2 separate regions of the Homo sapiens genome follow, and region 1 is linked to region 2. The links come from fine-mapping of genetic effects on gene expression. A gene starts in region 2. The other region holds a variant in brackets. All regions are shown on one strand. Distances are between the middles of the regions. Region 1 holds the start of AADACL2-AS1 (AADACL2 antisense RNA 1). Region 2 holds the start of SUCNR1 (succinate receptor 1).

Region 1 (10,766 bases), 55 kb after region 2:
TGTTGATTCTTAGTTTCTTCAGCTTTTTGTTATTTAAGGATAGGAGTGATGACTTCTAAGCTTTTTTTTGAGACGGAGTCTCGCTCTGTCACCCAGGCTGGAGGACAGTGGCATGATCTCGGCTCACTGCAACCGCCACCTCTCAGGTTCAAGCAATTCTCCTGCCTCAGCCTCCTGATAGCTGGGACTACAGGTGTGTGCCACCACACCTGACTAATTTTTGTATTTTTATTAGAGATGGGGTTTCACCATGTTGGCCAGGCTGGTCTTGAACTCCTGACCTCAGGGGATCTGCCCACCTTGGCCTCCCGAAGTGCTAGGATTACAGGCATGAGCCACCACGTCCGGTCGACTTCTAAGTTTTTTAGATGGTGGGGCTAACACTAGAAGTAGTAAGCACTTTTTCATACTAAATCCAGAGTTCTTAAATAGCAGTAACTGAATCTCTCACCTTTTTGTCTCTGGCATTTATTAGATGGACAAGTTTTGAGTGAGAGGATGTGGAAGGAAGGTAATCTCTCCATTAAAAACACTTTGCTTTAGATTTGAATAACTTAGAGCAAAAGATGGAATATAATAGATTGACATTTCACAGAGGTGTCTAAGTAGTCCTTTGAAAATAAATGAGGACAATTACAGTAGATACAAAGAAGACTGTCACTGGATTATGATTTGAAAGCTGTGCCCTGTATCCGGTGAAGTTTCTCTTTAAAGAACATTTTGTGCTTCATCAAAACCAAACCAAATCTAGTCAATCCTATTTCAATTAATTTGGTTAGCCATGAATTTTTTTTTTAAATAACACCTAGAACACATTATTCCAGGGCTACTAAAATATACATGTACATCACTTAAACTACTTTCTTTCCATCATCAAAGAGTATGCTTAAATACAACTCCAAAGCCAAGGGTTTAATCCTAATCTTTTAGAAATTTTTTTTTAAGTTTTGAAAATTACCTACATATTATGATTTCCTAGATATTGTTGATGAAATGTAAATGATGGGGAGGACAACTGCAAAATGACATACAGGTGTCCTGGAGGACTCCACGTGACTTTATCCCAATATATGTATGCATTATTAATCACCAGGATCCACAATTTTGTGATCATAATGTTAAGACTTTTTTGAATCTTTTGGGCGAATGTTGATATGCATTTTTTATTTCCCTCTAACAAAAAGTCTTAAAGTCTCCTCTCTCTTGTCTTTTTACAGTATAACCAGAGTAGAATGTGGATTTAGGAAATATGATAAGTTGTATACCATCTGGTTCTTTACCATAGACTATTTCCCATGCTATTATATCAGAGGGCAGAAACTGGCAGCCTCAAATAAAGTTTGTTCTGTAGATACATTTTTTGGGAGGTCAGATATTTTATTAGAAAAAATTAAATCAGTTTTTAACATTTAAAAATCAGAAGATTTTCAATTTTAAAAATCTACATTTTTGGCTTTTTTAACTGGGAACTTATTTCCACCCATCAAGAGAAGACTGATCTTAAGAGAAATGTCTGTCTTGGGGAGGAGTGCAGGATGGCAGACCTCTTTATTTTGGCAAAATTCCTACCACACTCTATTGTATTACACCCAGTATATGCATGAATTTTCTCGATAGACATTTGAGTTTGCACTCCCTGACACTTTCCTCTGCTACTTCAGTTACTGGCTCTTATCACTGACATTTAAGAATCTCTTTATAATGGCCTAGAGAATAAAGTTGCATAGGATGCCTATCCATGGAAATTCCAATGTTCATACAGAGCTAAATCTGTTCATCAGTGTTTGCAATAATTGCTATGCTTTAAAATTTGTAAACGATAGTTGAAAGGAAGTCTTGCAGCCAGATGATATCTGACTCATTTTTGTAGTATGATTAATTGTGCTATAAAAAGTATTTTTTAATCTAGTCAGGATTCTTTAGGCTCAAGAGACAAAGAATACTCAAGCCCAGATGAATTTAAAACTAAAAGTTGAGTGTTATGGTTGGAATCTAGGAGACCTTTAAGAAACTGGTAGTGAGACTAGCAGAATTAAAAGATAGGCAGGGGCTGGCTGGGTACTCTGGGCTCTCTTACTAAGTGTCTCTGTTTCTTAGTGATTTTTTTTTTTTTTACAATGTCTCTTCTTTTTTACTCACTCTTCTTTTAAATACTTTTTTGCCTCCCAATTTTAACCTTCACAATGCCACACAATGTCCATCCCAGCCTATGACTTTTTTGGCCACAGTTGGTTGGTTTTTTGAGAGGACTCTGGCCTAGCTCATCTTTTGCAACCAGCCAGAGGAACTGTAAGACAACATGCAGCTTCTGGATTGGTAGCCTTTGGATAAAAGCGTTACTTGTCCAATCAGTCACAGCCAATGATGTGTTAATACCATCATAATCACCATCATGTCATCTCTTATCATTACTGTCAATATTATTGCTAACACGTCTTAGATGCTTACTATGTACCAGACAATCTCCTAAACACTCTAGACCTGATTCATTTAATCCCAATTACAATGTGTGAGGCAGACACTCTTTTGACCATATTTTACGGATGAGGATATTGAGCATGGTTGTGGTGCTCAGCAGGGACTTGAAGGCAAGGGCAGCATCCCTTATTGCTAGCTGAGGGACAAGCATAATAGATGTGTCTAGAAAAAACTGTTTTCCCTTTGGGCTTGCAAAATAGGAGGTTCACAGAGAATTACAGGGTAATCCCTTTATTGAGAAATTACTAAAACTGGTTTGCAATTTGCTTTGTTTGCACAGTTGTGCATCTCTCTAAATGTATTACAGGCTGGTACAGTCAGCACTCGCAACGGGACAACTTCAGGGTCAGACTTTAAAGTATATAGAGCTTTTTCACTCCCATTCCCTTTTCTGTGTTCCCAGATTCCATGAATCCTTTCTTTCCACTCTCTTCCCCTTCAGTCAGTCTCTGCTGTTGCTAGCTCCTCGTGAATTCTTTAGTTCTTTCCTCTGAAGACTCAATCTCACCCACAGGTTTCGACAACATTGTGAACACGGGACTCGGCAAGGTCAAGCAGTGACCAGACTCGGGGAATACTTGAGAATAAATGTTTGCTGCCCAACCTGAAACACCTAGGTAGTCACAGATTTTGTGCAGAGTTGGTGCTTAAAGGCCAGTTGCAGGCCCTGTGGTAAATTTCAGGAATAAAGGTAGGACCTCAGTTGAGAACCAGCAGCCAAATACAAGTCAAAGTGCAGCATAATGAGAGATGCACAAATATCAAAGCAATCCAAGAAGGAGAAATTAAGTAGTGGCAGGTAAATTAAAAGTCAGAGAGAGCTTTGGAGAGAGTGAGCATGTTGGGATAAACTTTGTCAACCTAGAGGATGTGGCTTCGGTGATCTCATAACCATGCGCCGTTGGGGTGTTATGAATCTGTACACACCACAGGTGGAGGCTTAAAGACAGCTATGTGCTCATTGAACTACTGAAAGCCACACAACCCAGATTTTCTTCCTCCAGGGGGTCTCAATGGAACACCGTTCCTTCTCTGTTCCCTCCTTCCCTCTCTCCCTCCCTTCCTATAATTGCCCTTTTCAGTCCTTTTCAGGCACCAGGTACTTTTCAGGTGCTAGGGATCTAGTAGTGAATAACACCCTACCCTCGAGGAATTCACATACTAGAAGTAAAGAGAGACCATAAACAAAAGTCCTACTGGAATTTCTATTTGCCAAGATTTCCCCGATGTATTTTTTGGACGTCAACCTAAGCCTGACCAAGAAACCCTCATTAAAACAAAAGTTACAGCTCCAGCCTCTGTGTGGCTAGTGGATAAGCCTCAAGGCAGCTCACAGCTCCCTCCTGAAAGACTTGTTTGCCTCATGGTTTTTTATGGATGAATCATGCTTCCTACTAGACTCCTGAGATTTTTTTTTAAAACTCTTGTCTTAATGTTCTTTTCTTTTACCTCTTTTCTTTTTATCCTAACCCACCTTCAGAAAATAATAAGATACAAGTCATGTATAACTTAAATGTATGTAAAACTTTAGTTTAAATAAATGTACCATCTTTCAGGGACACAGCCATCTTACTTCTTAGTTTGAAAAGTTGAATGAAAGTATTTTTTCCCTATTAGAAACATTTTAAAAGTAAGGATCTAAATGAAGTGACTACTAAGAATAAAGCCTGTCCAAATATACACCTTTTTTTATTATGTGGAAGGCAGGAATTTATTCAATGTTTCCTTCGGTTTTAACCAGAAACAAAAAGTACCTCATGCCTTCCAAAAATGCTCAAAGATAACGAGGAATTACACTGCCTCATCCTAATTCTCTCAAGCTTAAATTTCTTAATTACAGTTGTTTGCCAGCAGTTCTTTATTAGTATAGAGTCAGCTTCCAACAAAGGAGGAATCATTAGTGCAGCAAGATAGCTGGCCTCTTCGGGAGGAAACAGACAGCTGGAAGTCCACGACCAATTCTCAGTAAAGGGACACTGCATGGGTAGGAAAATGGTTGAAAGTAAACTTAGGTAGCTGAAAAGAGCCATGTCTGCCATGGCCTCGTGTTGAAGTTAGAGCAGAGCACACCTATTTATTCTGACAATTTAAGACCTCATTAACTAGACACTGCTTAGGGCAAATTAATTGTGTTGAAAGAGAAACACCCATCAATACATTTATTAAGTGTACCCCTATTATTAGAATCTTTATATTTTATATTCTGGGTAGGGTGGAGACAGCGAACTTGCTCTATAAATGATTAGTAAAGTGTTTTTTGTATATTTGAGTCAGACTAAAAAGTGTCCAAATATGTGCTAATGGTAACCCAGTCTCTAAAAATAAACTATGTGCCTGTTGCTTACAATGCTGGCTTCTTTGAGATCTATTTTACATGGTTTTTCCATGCCCAGAAAAAAAGAGGTGCGGCTCTTACTGCAAACACATTTGAAAATCTATCTGATGATTTTGTAGGGCCCAGAAAGCACCTAAACATGACTCACATATTACCAGCTTCAGAGCAACTGAAGCGATCGTAGCGATTGTTTTTTAACTCCCCACAGATGTTGGAAAATTACAAGGCTTGTGCTTCATAAAAATATCACTCTACCTACGCCTGGCTTCTGCCTTTATTTTAATGAATGAGAATGTGTAAAAATTTGGAATTGTGCATGTTTGAATTCCATAGGCAGTGATTAAGATTAACTAATTGATTGTGCAAAGCTTCAGAAAATTGAAACCAACTTGCTATATTTCATGGGCTTCTATCAAAACAAAATAAAGATTTGTTTGGCCTTTTTTTTTTTTTTTCATTTTCTGCTTTTATTGCCTCTTCTTTCTCCTTACATTTTATCAGAAGACAAATATTTTGGGGGCTTGAGGAGAACAGAAAAGGGCAAATTTCTCCATGTTATAACATTTTCTTATAGAATCTGACTCTGCAAAGCAGAGAAGTGATTCAGCTAACCTCCCTCAGGTTTTCTTTCCTAAATTTTATGCATGAGAAACTGATGCTCAGAAAGATGTTCACTGGTTATTCCCAGACCCAGAAAGCAAAGTCTATTTTCTTTATTCGAGCCATGTAACTACTACCAAAATTTTTCACTGAGTATAACCAAAACTAACTTCAGATGAGTTAAATCCAAAAGGAATTGTCAAAGTTTGTTG[T/C]ATACTCACAGAATTTCCGGAAAAGCTGGAATGTTAGACTCTGAAAATGAGCAGGAACCACGAAAAGCTGAGTAGCAGGAACACGACCAAAATTATTCCTCAGGAAACGTTGGGATGGGCGTTATTGAGAGGTGACAGCGTGCTGGCAGTCCTCACAGCCCGCGCTCGCTCTCGGCGACTCCTCTGCCTGGGCTCCCACTTTGGCGGCACTTGAGGAGCCCTTCAGCCCACGGCTGCACTGTGGGAGCCCCTTTCTGGGCTGGCCAAGGCCAGAGTCCACTCCCTCAGCTTGCAGGGAGGTGTGGAGGGAGAGGCGCGAGCGGGAACCGGCGCTGCGCGCGGCGCTTGCGGGCCATCTGGAGTTCCGGGTGGGCGTGGGCTTGGCGGGCCCCGCCCCCGGAGCAGCGGGCGGGCCCCGCCGACCCCGGGCAATGAGGGGCTTAGCACCCGGGCCAGCGGCTGCGGAGGGTGTACTGGGTTCCCCGGCAGTGCCAGCCCACCGGCGCTGCGCTCGATTTCTCACCGGGCCTTACCTGCCTTCCCGCAGGGCAGGGCTCGGGACCGGCAGCCCGCCATGCCTGAGCCTCCCACCCCCTCCATGGGCTCCTGTGCGGCCCCGAGCCTCCCAGACAAGTGCCACCCCCTGCTCCACGGCGCCCAGTCCCATCGACCACCCAAGGGCTGAGGAGTGCGAGCGCACGGCGCGGGACTGGCAGGCAGCTCCACCTGCAGCTCCGGTGCGGGATCCACTGGGTGAAGCCAGCTGGGCTCCTGAGTCTGGTGGGGACGTGGAGAACCTTTATGTCTAGCTCCGGGATTGTAAATACACCAATCAGCACTCTGTATCTAGCTCAAGGTTTGTAAACACACCAATCAGCACCCTGTGTCTAGCTCAGGGTTTGTGAATGCACCAATCAACACTCTGTGTCTAGCTACTCTGGTGGGGCCTTGGAGAACCTTTGTGTCTAGCTCAGGGATTGTAAATACACCAATCTGCACTCTGTGTCTAGCTCAGAGTTTGTAAACACACCAATCAGCACCCTGTGTCTAGCTCAGGGTTTGTGAATGCACCAATCGACACTCTGCATCTAGCTACTCTGGTGGGGCCTTGGAGAACCTTTGCGTGGACACTCTGTATCTAGCTAATCTGGTGGGGACGTGTAGAACCTTTGTGTCTAGCTCAGGGATTGTAAACGCACCAAATCAGCGCCCTGTCAAAACAGACCACTGGGCTCTACCAATCAGCAGGATGTGGGTGGGGCCAGATAAGAGAATAAAAGCAGGTTGCCCCATCCAGCAGTGGCAACCCGCTCGGGTCCCCTTCCACACTGTGGAAGCTTTGTTCTTTCACTCTTTGCAATAAATCTTGCTGCTGCTCAGTCTTTGGGGCCGCACTGCCTTTATGAGCTGTGACACTCACCGCGAAGGTCTGCAGCTTCACTCCTGAGCCAGCGAGACCACAGAACCCACCAGAAGGAAGAAACTCCGAACACATCCGAACATCAGAAGGAACAAACTCCAGACGCAGATGCGCCACCTGAAGAGCTGTAACACTCACCGCGAGGGTCCGCGGCTTTATTCTCGAAGTCAGTGAGACCAAGAACCCACCAATTCCGGAAACATTATGGCCGCACTGCAGAATACCAGGTATTGCCCCTACCAACCCCGGACATTGCCTGTCATTAGCGCTGTCACCAGCACTGTTCAGACTCTGGAACTCTTGTCTCTGCTACCTGCACTGGGACAAAAATCTCCTTTGTCCCTGTATCTTTGCATCACTTGCTCTAGAGTGGATTTCCTGGCAGGTTATATGCCTTTATCCTCGGTACTGCAAAATCTGCAAAAGCAAGCGCCCATCATTTCTTACTTTTGTGGACACCGAAAGTAATGGATAATTCCTTACCCCATTCCTTGCCCAAGAAAGGAAGGGACTGCATGTGATAGGCAGCCACCACCACCAGTGATATCAGCCTAACATATCATGTTTATATTATTCAGTTAGAAAAGGAAAAAATGGCCACTTTTAAACAACATTTATATAATAAACAGTTAAAAAAAAGGAAGAAGCTGCACAACCCAAAGAATGTAGAAGAAAGAGCCCCTCTGCTACATCTAAACCAAACCTGTTACTACTTTGCCATGTTACCTTGAACAGGACCCTTCACCTCTCTGCTCCTGTTTCATTGTCTTACAAATGAGGGGTTGGACCAAGTGATCTTAAGGTCCCTTCTTTTTTGATATTCTCTAACTAAAACATGACAGTATCAAAGGGGGAGACTAGGTGGCTTAGTCTGTGGCTTTGCCAATCAGATCTCAATTGGAAGAAACAATCATGAGGTTGAAAGCAGGTTTGTGCAAACAGACAAGAAAGAAAACCAAGGTATTTTTTAAAAATTGTATCATTTGTGCTCTGATCCAGAAAGGGAAATGGGTTTTTTTGTTTGTTTGTTTGTTTGTTTGTTTTGGAAATGGAGTCTCGCAATTCTCCTGCTTCAGCCTCCCGAGTAGCTGGCACTATCAGTGCACGCCGCCACGCCTGGCTAATTTTTTCTTTTTTAGTAGAAATGGAGTTTCACCGTGTTGCCCAGGCTGGTCTCAAACTCCTGAACTCAGTCAATCTGCCCACCTCGGCCTCCCAAAGTGCTAGGATTACAGGCGTGAGCCACCGCACCTGGCCAAGGGAAAGATTTTAAAATTCATCTCAAGGGGTAAAATATTTGTCACCAACTAGAAAGCAGAATATCATATCAGAAAAAATCACTCTCACCTTTGTCCATATGCTGGAAGGCAACTGGAGTAGCCATCTGGATTCATTCATAAAAATTTGCTCTGTTAAAGCAAAGTGGATACAAGAGCACTTGGTAAGCCAGGACTGTATTGTTTCTGCATCATTAAGGTTACTCCTGTTGTCATTTTCATTGAAATCATAGGCATCATCTGGCAGGCTTTTTTGTTTTTTTGTTTTTTTTTTAATTAAGGGCTAGGGTTTTGTTGTGTCAACCAGGCTGGAGTGCAGTGGCATGGCCATAGCTCACTGCAGCCTCAAACTCCTGAAACAATTCTCCTGCTTCAGCCTCCCCAGTAGCTAGCACTACAGGCGTGCACCACCACACCTGGAAATATTTTTTCATTTAATATTTTATAGATACAAGGTCATGCTGTGTTGCCTAGGCTGATCTCAAACTCCTGGCCTCAAGTGATCCTCTCACCTTCGCCCAAAGTGCTGGGATTACAGGTGTGAGCCACCATGCCTGGTCTGGCACTGGCAGGCTTTGGTTTCTAATGCCTAACTTGCCAGCTACTTCCTCTAATCTAATTTTTTACAAACCCAAGAAGCTCTGAAGATGAGACAAAATAATTTTTTGAAAAATTTTCTTTATAAACACACACATACATATATCAAAAACAGAGAGCCTGGTCATGACATAACATTGTATTGAAGGGGTTCTTTTTATTTTTCTCAGATCTTAGGTTTATTCATCTTTTATTTTTCACCATAGAAATCCTATGACTCATAAAAACACAGGGCCAGGAGTCCTGTGACTCTATATTTTCATAGAGAGAACATGATTTGGAAGACCAGACTTAATAATTTTACTCTGTCTCAAATTTTGAATAGTGTTTGCTTTAAAAGGCATCTTATCACCGAAAGCAAAGTGAGAAAAATGAAGTCAACATTCACTGACAATTCTTGCCACTCAACCCTTTAAAAAGATAACCAACTACATAGTTACTGAGGGGTCCTTCATTATTAGGGAGTAAGGGGAATAACTTTCACATCTCTATAGTATTTATGGATCTGACATCTGGATAATAAGGTGTTTTGTAAGTAAATCTTTCGATAACATTGTTTTAATTTTCTGAGAAAAACTCAACCTTATTATCAAAACGTATTTCACCTGACTATATTTTCCCCAAATATAAAATTTACCAATAGGAGCAATCAGTCAGTACATACTAGGTCTTACTCATTAGTATATTAATACCAATTTCACAACACTGCATAAACAAATCAGCTTCATAGAATAAAATTCTAAAATATTCTGATGTAAATTAGTAAATGTATGCAGGGAATTATTTATTTACATATTAACATTAAAACATTTGAAAAGATTACACATCAACTTGAAGTACAAACACTCTGCAGATCATCTTACATTTTCTCTTGTGCCTTCTCAGGCTAAATGTTCTTAATGAAAAATGACAAGAAAAAGGTGTGAATAGTCAGCAGTGTTAATGCTAATTTTTGAGGTAAAGGAGACAACTAGCTTCAAATAATATTTGAGTGAAAATGACTATTTCCTCAATCATTAGTCATAGGGAAAGGAGAATGAGAACACTAAAAAAAATTATTTAAATAGCACTTTATATTCAAATATTTTAATTAAAAATTCATTAAATATTTTAAACTAAAGAAGTAAAGCATTTGGAACCTAAGCTCCAGGCAACTAAAATTTGGTCAAAGTATTTCATGTACCTGTCAAATTGCAGATAAAAGTTGTAGTTTCTTTTTCTTTTTCTTTTTTTGTATTCATCTTTGGCATTTAAAGTAGATTAGCTAGTTGTTGGGTGTGGACATCTGTGTCTTGAGCTTTTCTCCTGGAAATCAATATTTATTTAATAAACCTTTTTTCTTTAAAGGCAAATTATCATCTGTTTTTTCAGGGTGGTCCCGGTACTTTCCAGTTATAAAATAAAATCGGCTGAGATTCAAGAAGTTCATTTGGCTTGAGGTTAAAAAGTAAATTTTGGCCCTTTTGAATTGAAACTTGGTTAGTCAGAACCTCTAATCATTTCCCTCTAAAAAACCTAGGGTTATTTTATTTTAGAAGGAGACGACTATTGAATCCATGAGTCACTCTAAGGCAAGTCTTAATATTAATCTTTAATTCTTTATATTAAATCTCAAAGGGCCGGGCACGGTGGCTAACGCCTATAATTTCAGCACTTTGGGAGGCCAAGGCGGGTGGATCACTTAAGATCAGGAGTTCAAGACCAGCCTGGCCAATATGGTGAAACCCCGTCTCTACTAAAAATACAAACATTAGCCAGGCATGGTGGCACGTACCTGTAATCCCTGCTATAGGGAGGCTGAGGCAGGATAACCGCTTGAACCTGTGAGGCAGAGGTTGCAGTGAGCC
Region 2 (10,766 bases):
TTATCAGCTTTACAGTTAACAAATCAGCATAAAATATAAGTTTAAATGTAGTCAGTACATTAATGATTATATTATAGCGATAAAGATACTAATACAAAGGAATCATGCCACTGAGTGTGTTATTAACAGGGGCAGGTAATTTTCTTTAATTCATAACACAGTCACAAACCACTTAGCTCACTTAATGAACACATACTCTTGTACTCCAGGGAATTTTGAAAACCTCTCAATTCAATTACTAGGATGCTCAATGAGATTCAATCAGACTGACTTCTTGTTCTTATTTCAAGGGCAAATAATATATTCAAGCAAGTAAAATGAAGAGTGGTTAATTAGTAGCCAATTGAAAAAGTACATCAAGACAATAAACTAGCTGCTTTTTTGTTTCTATAAATAATGTAAAATATTCCAGGAATCAAGCAAATTTGTACAAAATACAGTAAATGTGACTGGAAGAGACTGAGTAGTCAAGTAATCAATTAGCAAATTAATAAATTACTTTAATATTTTAGGCAAACTCTTTTCTTTAAATAAAAAAGATGCCTTGATCAGCAACAGTTAAGAATGAAATCTGGCCTGGTGTGATGCCTCATACCTGGATAGCAAAGTGCTATCCAGTACTTTGGGAGGCTGAGGTGGAAGGATTGCCTGAGCTCAGGAGTTCGAGATGAGCCTCGCTAACCTTTTCTCTACAAAAAACCTAAAAAAATAAATTAACCAGGCGTGGTGGTGTGCACATGTAGTGCCAGTTACTCAGGAGGCTGAGGGCAGGAGGATCGCTTGAGCCCAGGAGATCAGGGCTGCAGTGAGTTATGGTCATGCTACTGCACTCCAGCCTGGGTGACAGAACAAGACCCTGTCTCAAAAATAAATAAATAAGTAAATAAAAATAAAAAGATAAAGAGAGAGAAAGAGGAAATGAAATCTGTCTCTAATTGTACACAAATGCCTGAATTTCATATACCGCTATTTCTATTCAAGGAAACAAAACAACATTATTTGTATAGAGAAACACCTGTGATTAAGGTTCAGCACATATTATCAAAAATGAATTAGCTGTGGAATTTGCATATAAACTGAAAGATAAAAGGTGAATTTGCTGTGTTTCTAGGTTAATTGTTAGTACTTCAAGGAACTTAGAATATTTTAGCTGTAGTCAGATGCTTTTAACAAATAATGTGTTTTAATTTAGCAGAACAATTCCTTTGAGTTATGCCCAGTACCAATAGATATGACACATATTTTTCTTAACTGTATAATCAGAAAAAAGTCAGTAATGCAAAAATTTCCATTAATAATGTAGCTCTTAAATGACAAGGATTTTCATAGGAAAAGGAAGTAGATTGCTTGAGTGCCTATTTTGAATAGACCATTTTCCGTGGTAAAGTAAATTTGGTTAATATAATTTATTGATTTCTAGAAGCCGGAAGAATTTTGAGACATGCACAAATACCTTCTGCTGTGTTTTTCCTTTTGCTGTTTGTCCTTTATTATTTTGCTACATGAAACCATTCATTGAAAAAGGAAGTAACCATGTAATCTTGCTTATATCTATCCAGAAACACCAAAATATCCTCCCCAATAATCTTGATTTGTTTCAACTTCTGGGGGTTGTTATTATTATTATTGTTTCTCCTTACGGGTTTAGAAGAAAGTCCTCGAATTAGATTAATTGCCCTCTTCTTTCTCTGCTTGTGACCCTTGAAGATTAGCATGACCCTTAAACCAGTTTTGTTTTCCACACAGACTTTTTGGGCTGTTAAATGTGGCTTGTAAACATTCCCAGAGACGTTGCTAGGAGAATCTTTCTATAAATACTTTAACTATTTATTTTTAACATGTTTGATTTTTATCTAAAATGTTCTATTCTTTTTGGAAGTTGGAAGATTTAAATTATTAAATTTGATAATCAATAAGTTTTATAACTAATAATTAAATTTAGTGTTAGTTTTAAATTTATTTTACTAAACTATATAAAATTGCCATATATAAGGTAAAAATGTTCCAATATCAATAATTTTATGTTTCAATCTAATATTTTCATCTTTACCATGAGTGACTCAGGAGAATAATGGAGAAGAGTTTGGATTCAGGAGTCAAACAGATAAGGCTTCAAATTATACAGCCAAATCATGTATTAGCTGTGTATTTGTGGATCATTTATTTAATCTTTATTAGGCCTTGATTTCTTCAACTGAAAATGAGTGATATTAATAATATCCACTGCATTAAATTATTGTGAATATTAAAAGAATCACTGCATACACTGTGTTATTATAGAGTGAATGCTGAAAAAATGTTAGTAGAAGTTATTATTAATTTTTTTTAGACAGGATCCCACTCTGCCACCCAGGCTGGAGTAAAGTGATGCCATCATAATTCATTACAGTCTTGACATCCTGGGCTCAAGTGATCCTCCCACCTCAGCCACCTGAGTAGCTGGGACTACAGGTGTGTTCCACCACTCCCAGCCAATTTTTTCGATTTTTAGTAGAGGAGGTCTTGCTATGTTGCCCAGGTTGGTTTTGAATTCCTGAGCTCAAGTGACCCTCCTGCTTTGGCCTCCCAAAGTGCTGGGATTATAGGTGTGAGCCACCGGACCCAGCAGAAGTTATTACTAGCATTGGATTTAATTAATATTTATATTATATTTCCCACCATTTTCTTTTTCCTCTTGAATTTCCTGATTAGTTTGCCTGGTTTACATGAACTGCTCTTCAATTTCAAGCCCATTGCATTTTCAAACATTATATAATTTGATACTATGAACATTATGAGTTTGATGGGTAGGAATTATTATTCCCCTTTTCCAAACAAGGAAATCAGGTTATGTGATTTTTTTTCAAAGATCACACAAACTAGTAAAAGGCAAAGCCAGGATTAGAACTCACTAATCTTTTTATCATGTTGGCTTTTATAAGGACCTTTTAAATGGATATTTCTGGGCAGCAAGTATTCTAACATCAATGGCACTGAATTACCATTATTATTTTAGAGAAAGTCTTCTCTCATTCATTATAAATTTCTGTAATAGCCAACAATTATTTAGCAACTAATATGTACCTCATATTATACAGTGTACGTATATACTAGTACCTCATACTATGTAGCATATGTACTTCTGCTATATACATAACAATTCATAAGATTGGTAACTCTCATTATCCCTGTTTTACAAATACAAAAACTGAAAGCTAGTGAGTAGTGAAGCCAATATTTGAAACAAAGCAGTTTGCCTCCAGGACCTATGCTCTTAAACACTGTGTTATACTACCTCTTAGCAAACAGTACTACAAGCTTTTAAAAAATATATATTTTAAAAAGTGTTCATTGTTGTACTTAACTTTTTTTTTTTTTGAGACAGGGTCTCACTCTGTCTCCCAGGTTGGAGGGCAGTGGCACAATCATGGCTCACTGCAGCCTCGGCCTCCCCAGGTTCAGGCCATCCTCAAGCCTCCCGAGTAGCTGAAACTAAAGGCACGCACCACCATGCCCCAGCTAATTTTTGCATTTTTTGTAGAGACAGAGTTTTGCCACTTTGCCCAGGCTGGTCTCCAATTCTTGGACTCAAGTGATCCGCCTGCCTTGGTCTCCCAAAGTACTGAAATTACAGGTGTGAGTCACCATGCCCGGCCAGTACTGCAAACTTTCACTGCCTTTCAAACTTCCATTGATTCTCAAGCAGTGCATCTCAACATGTTATATGTAAAAAAAAAAAAAAGACAAAACAAAAAAACTTTGCCCCCTCAAAATTTGATGTGCTATACTGAATAGAAATAGTTTCTGAGGAGGTTTCTACTCTCACAGGCAGAACTGGCTACATATTTAGTAGAGCCCAGTGCAAAAGAAATATATGGGGTCCCTTGTTAAGAAGTTATGAAACATTTTAATTAAGAATGTGACAGTAGAGCATTAACTCAACTGTGTGATCTTTTTTGAGTGTGAAGCACTGTGAGACTACACAGTAGCATACCATGAAACCCACCCTGCTCACAGGGTCATAATTCTGAATCCAGCCTTGTTCCCGTGCAGCTATCATTTTGCAGACCTGCATAAAGCTTTGTAGCAGAAATACTCGTGACCTTTTAGTAAGTCTTTCCCAGTAACACTCTAGTATCTCAACTGAGAGCATTCGGAGGAAACAGGAAGTAGGACTTGGGAGGGAAACAAGGCTACCAGGCTACAGTCTAGATGACGTGTTCTATGAAAAAGGAGAAGCATAGACCAATTTTTGTCTTAGCAGCCAGAGTGAGATGGTAGTCAGGAAGTGGGACGAAGAAAGAGGAAGCTCTCGGGAACTCCCACCACCCCACAAAGGGGGAATTACTCTTTTCTTCCATCAGAATGGTGGCAGAAACCTGTGAAATACATCCATTTGTCTTTGTTTCTTGGAAGGGGTTCATGTTAATTTATGTCTAAAATTAACAAGCCTGGCATTGGTTATTCAAATGCTTTTTGCCCTTTTAAAAATATAGACAAAAATAATGTTTTAACCTTTCTTCCTTCTAAAAGTAGAAAAGAATTGCATTACTGAAAAATACCTGTTATTAATTCTTAGACTTTGTTGTGCACAAGGGTATTGTCATTCAATTCTGTAGGCAGTCAAGAATCAGAGTCGGTGCTTTTAGAATCCAAGTACATAGGCTTAAGCTCTGGTCCCTCCCGTTATTGATTCTGCAATCTTGAGAAAGTTAATTGACCTCTCTGAACCTTAGCTTTTTAATCTGCAAAATGAGAAAAATCTTAAATAATAACAACCTCAGAGGATTACTATATGCATTTGATGCATAAAGGTACTTAGTGTAATACCTGCCTGCCACATCACAAGAACTCAACAAATTATAGATATTTTTATTTCATGTAAATGCACATGTTTGTATACATAAATATTCATACATGTATAAATATATTTTACACATGTATATAAAGTGTGTAATATAGACACATATGTATGTATATATGTATGTGTATATATACATACATATATTTTGAGTTCCTGAGTTTTTAAGCTGTCAGATATTGGTGAGGAGAAATGCTTAGTTAGGAGGATGCCTGTAACAGAGCTTCTTTTTGGGCTTCTGCCTGTCATTGCTAACTCAATATTCAACTTACATAGCATTTAAATTGAATTACTGCTGCCTGCACAATTATGGGCTTTCTTAGTATAATCCCTATGCTTCACATCAAGAAGACTGAGTGTTTACTTGAATCTAAACCTAATATAATGCTTGGAAAAAGCCAGGTGTGCTTCCTGTCTGAAATGGTGGTAATGTACTTCCAGATGTTTTTCAGAGCATTGATTGGGATATATAAATTGCCATCTATTAAGGTTATTTTACTTAGCATCTCTCTCCCTAATCCCTAGCTATCTGATGTATCTTTTATGTGTTTCTTGATTTTAAGCACAGAAAATAAAATGGAAAATAACTTGAAGCTCTAGTATCTTTTTGCTAGTACACCAACATAGCATATATCCAGGTTTCCCTTTAAAATTTCAGTTTTATAGTTCCCTCAAAGTTATTGAAAACAGAGGTTTCGTTATTATATTCTCAATACAGAATTCACTAAGAAAATTAATTTTAAAAAAGAAGAAAAGCAGAGGCAACTGTATTCCCAATATAAGCAGTATTTACCACTTCTTATTGTGTAAATATGCAAATAAAATGAAAATAAGGAATGCTTCTCTGTTGCTTTGGTAGTGGATAAAATAAGTTCAACAGTGTTTTTCTAAAAATCTATTTGGTAAATGTGTTTCCTGTGAAATGAGTTACTTGTTTTTTGTCATTCAATTGCAAAACTGCATGTGAAAATAAAATAAATGTGAATGTGAAAATAAAAGCCTCACAAAAATTCCTCTGCATGAACATCTCTGACTGGGAGGTTTGACTGAATAAATTATTCCTGGGCTTTTGAATTATTAATCTTGGCTGCAGGATATGCAAATAGGATATGCAAATAGGACACTGTAATAACCATGTCCAGTGGCACAACACTGGGTCAGAAGCTATATCCAGCTGCTGGCAGAGTTCCTGTCAAGGGATCAAGTCTTCCAACAGAATGGTAAGCTACATGGCAAATTGTGCCTCTCAGTGTATAAAGTAAGGCCAGATTTCCTTCTAAAGGTGACCTGTGAGCAATTAAGGTTTTCAGTATTAAGTGTTTAAATTAATTCTTTATAAATAGATGTAAAACAGCAAAATAATTGAAAAAAAAAAGTCATTTTTATCTCTACGTTTATTTTTCAACAAATTAACTGTCTTCTTTTAGTTGTCAAATACTAATTTTATTTTATGTAAAAGGATTTATTATATTTGCTAACATCTCAACAACTTATATTTCAACAAAATAGTAATTGGATTTACCTAAATAAATATAACTACTTATGGGGAAAAATTAAAGTTCCTAAATGATTTGAAACAATCATGTATTTGATACATACACACACACACACACACACACACACACACACATATACATACATATATATATATATATATATATTTTTTTTTTTTTTTTTTTTTTTTAAGACAGAGTTTCACTCTTGTCACCCAGGCTAGAGTGTCTGAGTGCCAGAGTGACACATTTACAGCATGTGTTGGCTCACTGCAACCTCCGCCTCTGGGGTTCAAGCAATTCTCCTGCCTCAGCCTGCAGAGTAGCTAGGATTACAAGCGCCCACCACCACGCCCGGCTATTTTTTTTGGATTTTTTAGTAGAGATGGAGTTTCACCATGTTGGTCAGGTTGGTCTCAAACTCCTGACCTCAGGTGATCCACTCATCTCGGCCTCTCCAAGTGTTGGGATTCCAGGCATGAGCCACTGTGCTGGGGCATAATATTTTTATGTTTAGAAAATAATGTATTTGGGGGAATTTTCAGGCATCCTAAAAATTAAATTTAACATTTATGTGTGTAAAAATGATATTACCCAATAATTAATTTACTTAGGAAAAATGAAAAATTGCAGAAACCATTTCTATTCTACCTTCCATAACTTTTCAAAATGTGTGTGGTATTCTTAAAGAAGTTAATACACAATTTGTGCCATACTATTACTTTTTAATACCTTAATTTCTGGTGTAATGTATGGAATACATAAAAATAAAGTTACAAATGTTAAATTATTATATCTTTTCAGTGTGAATATATATTTTTGCTCAAATTATTTAGTAATCAAAAAAGTAATTTGTTAAAAAAAATTCTCATGTTACCATGTAAATTTGCCTTAAGGTAGCACTTAAAAGTAAACATTTTACAAATGTTATTTGTTTAATTGTGATGACTATAAAAACAAACAATTAAAAAGCTAAGAAACTATCACATATATATTTTAAAGTAAATTTCAAAAATGCAGATTTTCAAAAGGCTGAATATATTTAAAGTAAAAAACATTTTCAAGTTAAGTATTATTGGTCTGCTTATGTGAGTAAATTAGATATTGCTTCTAGTTCAATAATTCTAACAGTTTTAGATATATTTTTGGACTGGAAACTAAAGATTTCACTTTAATTTCTGCTCTTAAAAAATACCTATTCAAAATAATTCATCCAAATCAGTTACAATTTATTTATCACTATTTCCATTTCCTAAAAATTAAGAATATAGCCACTAGATAGCAGAAGAGAGAATATGAATTTTTCATGAGGGAATTTTCTCTTTAATTGGGAGTTTTGCTTAAAGGAGCAACTTACTTCATATGTTTATAGAATTGCGATGCCACACTAAAAACATACCCAACTATAAACATATCCAATTTGAAATATAGTATCTTCAAAATTTTGTATCCTAGTGAAGTTAAATTGGTCTGCAAATATTGCACAGCTCATATTTATAAAATCATAATCTATTAGAATTATGAACTTAGAAAAAATGAAACAAATGTATCAAAAAATTATAAAACATCATAAAAAAATCTCATTTTTATGAATAAAAATTCAGGTAAATATTAAAATGTAAAAGGGTACCCAAATATTAGGAGTGGTCTGTTTACAGACCATTTTTATTTCTTATTTTTGCCTATTTGATTTTATGAGTGTTACACCTTAACAATAATTTTACACATACATTTTTAAAAAGTTGTTTCAAAAAAATGAAGAAACAACTGTATGAGAAGAAAGACAAATATGATAATTTAGTCATTCATTTCTCTTATTTCAGCTCTACTCCTTCCCTACTACTCCTTCAATCCCCGACCTTCTGGGCTACTATAAAGCAGAATGCTCCTTGACTTTCATGTGACCCGTCACCTGCCTGAGTGATAGTTGCAGGAAATCAGGCTCTAGTTGCACAAGTCTTTGTGGCTATATTTTCCTTCCATTGCAGTCAAATCTTTCTGCTGTGCACAATACATAAGCTATTAACATTACCAGTGGTGACTAGGCAGAAAGATAAACGTTATGACCAGAAAAAAAGGAAATGCAAAAGTGAAACAAATTTCTTGTGTCAAGGAAACTTTCTATACCTTAATTTTCATTTGAATTTGTGCACCAGCTTTTTGAGTACCCACAAAATAACAAGAGCTCAGAAATAAGGCCTGAGAAGGTCCAACATTTAAAACTTGGGCAAAGAAGGATTAAGCCACAAAAGAGCATGAAAATGGAGAAAGGAGGAAAACAAGGAGATTGTTGTGTCATAGAAGATAGGAAGAGAGTGCTTCCAGAAAGTGTGGACTTAAAAGCTACTGAGAATAAATAATAATAGTAAAAACTGACCATTGAGCTAAAAAAAATAAAGTTTGTTAATATGTTAAAGCCTATTGACATTTTTGCTATATTTCTAGAAATTTAAAGTTTTTAATATTATCAAATAGATGCCAATTTTGAGAGAAAAAATGATAGGAAATTTAGATAAAAGGAGAAAGGAAATAATAAAAACTACCTGAAATCTCATCATTAGAGATAAAGCTATTAACATTTTGATGCACGTCTTTCTAGACTTCTTATGCTTATTAATTTCAGGTGTCATTTCTTAATTAAATGCTTCAGTTTTAAAATTTATCCTGGTAGATATTTAATTTTGCCTTATACAAATGTGTTTCTAAACTACAGCTACTACTACTACAATTACTAATTTTTAATACTTATCATATTATATTATATATAGTGTTGACTTTCACAGTGAAATAAGCAATGAGCTTAATCTGATGGTCTTGCTGCTTATCTGGCCTTGGAGAAAATATTTATAAAAATGCTTTGTAAATAGTCAGGTGTTCATATTCATCTCTTCACTCAACAAAGATTTATAGATCACCTACTATCTGCTGGTCACTGTGCCAGATGTGGACAATAAAAAATGAGTAAGACAAAGTTATACAAAATTCTAAGAAGTTTAGTATACAATGAAAGCATAAATGGGAGGACCTACTTTAGACTGAGGGTCAGACAGCCTACCTTGGGAAACCTACACTTGAACAGAGGCCTGAGAGAAGTATAGATATATGACAAATATGTGATGGGCCAGGAATCACAGGACAAAAACAGCAGTGAAAAGAGATTCAGATAGAGGGACTGCATGTTAAGAAGGCTCTCTGTGCATTCAAAGAGCAGGAAGAAAGGAAGATGAATTAGGAGGAGAGTAATGCCAAGCAAAATTGAAGTGGGTGCAGGGGCCAGATCATGCAGACCTTGATGTCCCCATTAAGGATTTTAGACTATATTCCTTGGATAGTGGAAAGTTAATTAAGGGTTTTGATCAAGGAAAGCTATATGATCTGATTTTGAGTTGTAGTTTTTCAAGACTGTTTAGCTATAATGGTAAAGATGAACTGATGAGGGCCAGAGAGGATGTGAGGAGACAATAGCAGAATATGACATAGAGCAAAATAGAGATAAGAGTAGCCTGGACGAGAATGATAATGAAAGCTATAGAGCAGTAATGATAGATTTGAGAAATACCCAGACATTACAGTAAACAGACTTGGTAGTTTATTCATTACTGGTGTTGAGTTTTAGATGACTTTGAGGATATTGCTTAGATTTTCGTGGTGAGCACCTGGATACATGGCAGAACCATTTACTGAAATTGGTGGATATGCTGCAGGCTTGGTAAGGAATTTGGAGAATTTGGTGTAGGATTTCTAGAGGCAGAGACATCTGAGAGAAATCAATCAATGGCAATAAACAATTATAGTTTGTAAGGCAGATACAAGCTGGGCTGGAAATCTGGGAGTTGTTGATGTATAGTTGGTCATTAAACCTCAAAAGTGAATGAGATCATTTAGGAAGAATCTATGAAAAGAAGGAGCCCAGAAATTAGCCTTGAGGAACTCAACATTTATTGCTTGAGCCAAGAAGACTTGAGCCCCAAAAGTGCCTGCAAAGAACAACCAGGGAGAAAGAAGGGAAACTAGGATATTGTCATGTCTCAGAAGGCAAAAGAAGAGTGTTTCCAGAAGACAGAGTATGAAAAACAACTGATAAATAAAATAAGATTAGTGAAAAATGATTATTGGAATGAGCAATGTGGAGGCTACTTGGAGGACTGGTAGGTCCGAAGCCAAATTGGAGTAAGTTGAAAGGGAATGGGGTGTCGAGATGTCAAAACACTTAATGAGATGGCTCTTTCCAGAAATCAAACTATGAAGAGGAGAGGAACACGTGAAACTAGGGAGAGTTGTTTATGTTGCTCCTTATTGTAAGATTGAAATGATGAGAGTGTTTAAATTCTAATGGAAAAGAGGACATGAAGACTGACGATGAGGAGAAGAATGCTGAAGAGTCAGAAAAGAAGAAATAATGGTACCATGGGAATACTGAGAATTTGGGAATG

Evidence for each region. PIP is the estimated chance that this variant, and not a neighbour inherited with it, causes the effect.
Region 1: its variant is fine-mapped to the expression of SUCNR1 in whole blood (TOPMed, PIP above 0.99).

What each region holds. Positions count from the first base shown.
Region 1 is chr3:151,922,223-151,932,988 of GRCh38, forward strand. AADACL2-AS1 (AADACL2 antisense RNA 1) reads right to left here and starts at 5,953. Exons shown (of 3, transcript NR_110203.1): 1 at 5,635-5,953. LOC107986047 (a long non-coding RNA gene) reads right to left here. Exons shown (of 3, transcript XR_001740567.1): 2 at 10,103-10,224; 3 at 8,330-8,454. The variant T/C (reference allele first, on the strand shown) is at 5,626.
Region 2 is chr3:151,867,647-151,878,412 of GRCh38, forward strand. SUCNR1 (succinate receptor 1) reads left to right here and starts at 5,997. Exons shown (of 3, transcript NM_033050.6): 1 at 5,997-6,060. The region is part of intron 1 of AADACL2-AS1 (AADACL2 antisense RNA 1); the gene reads right to left.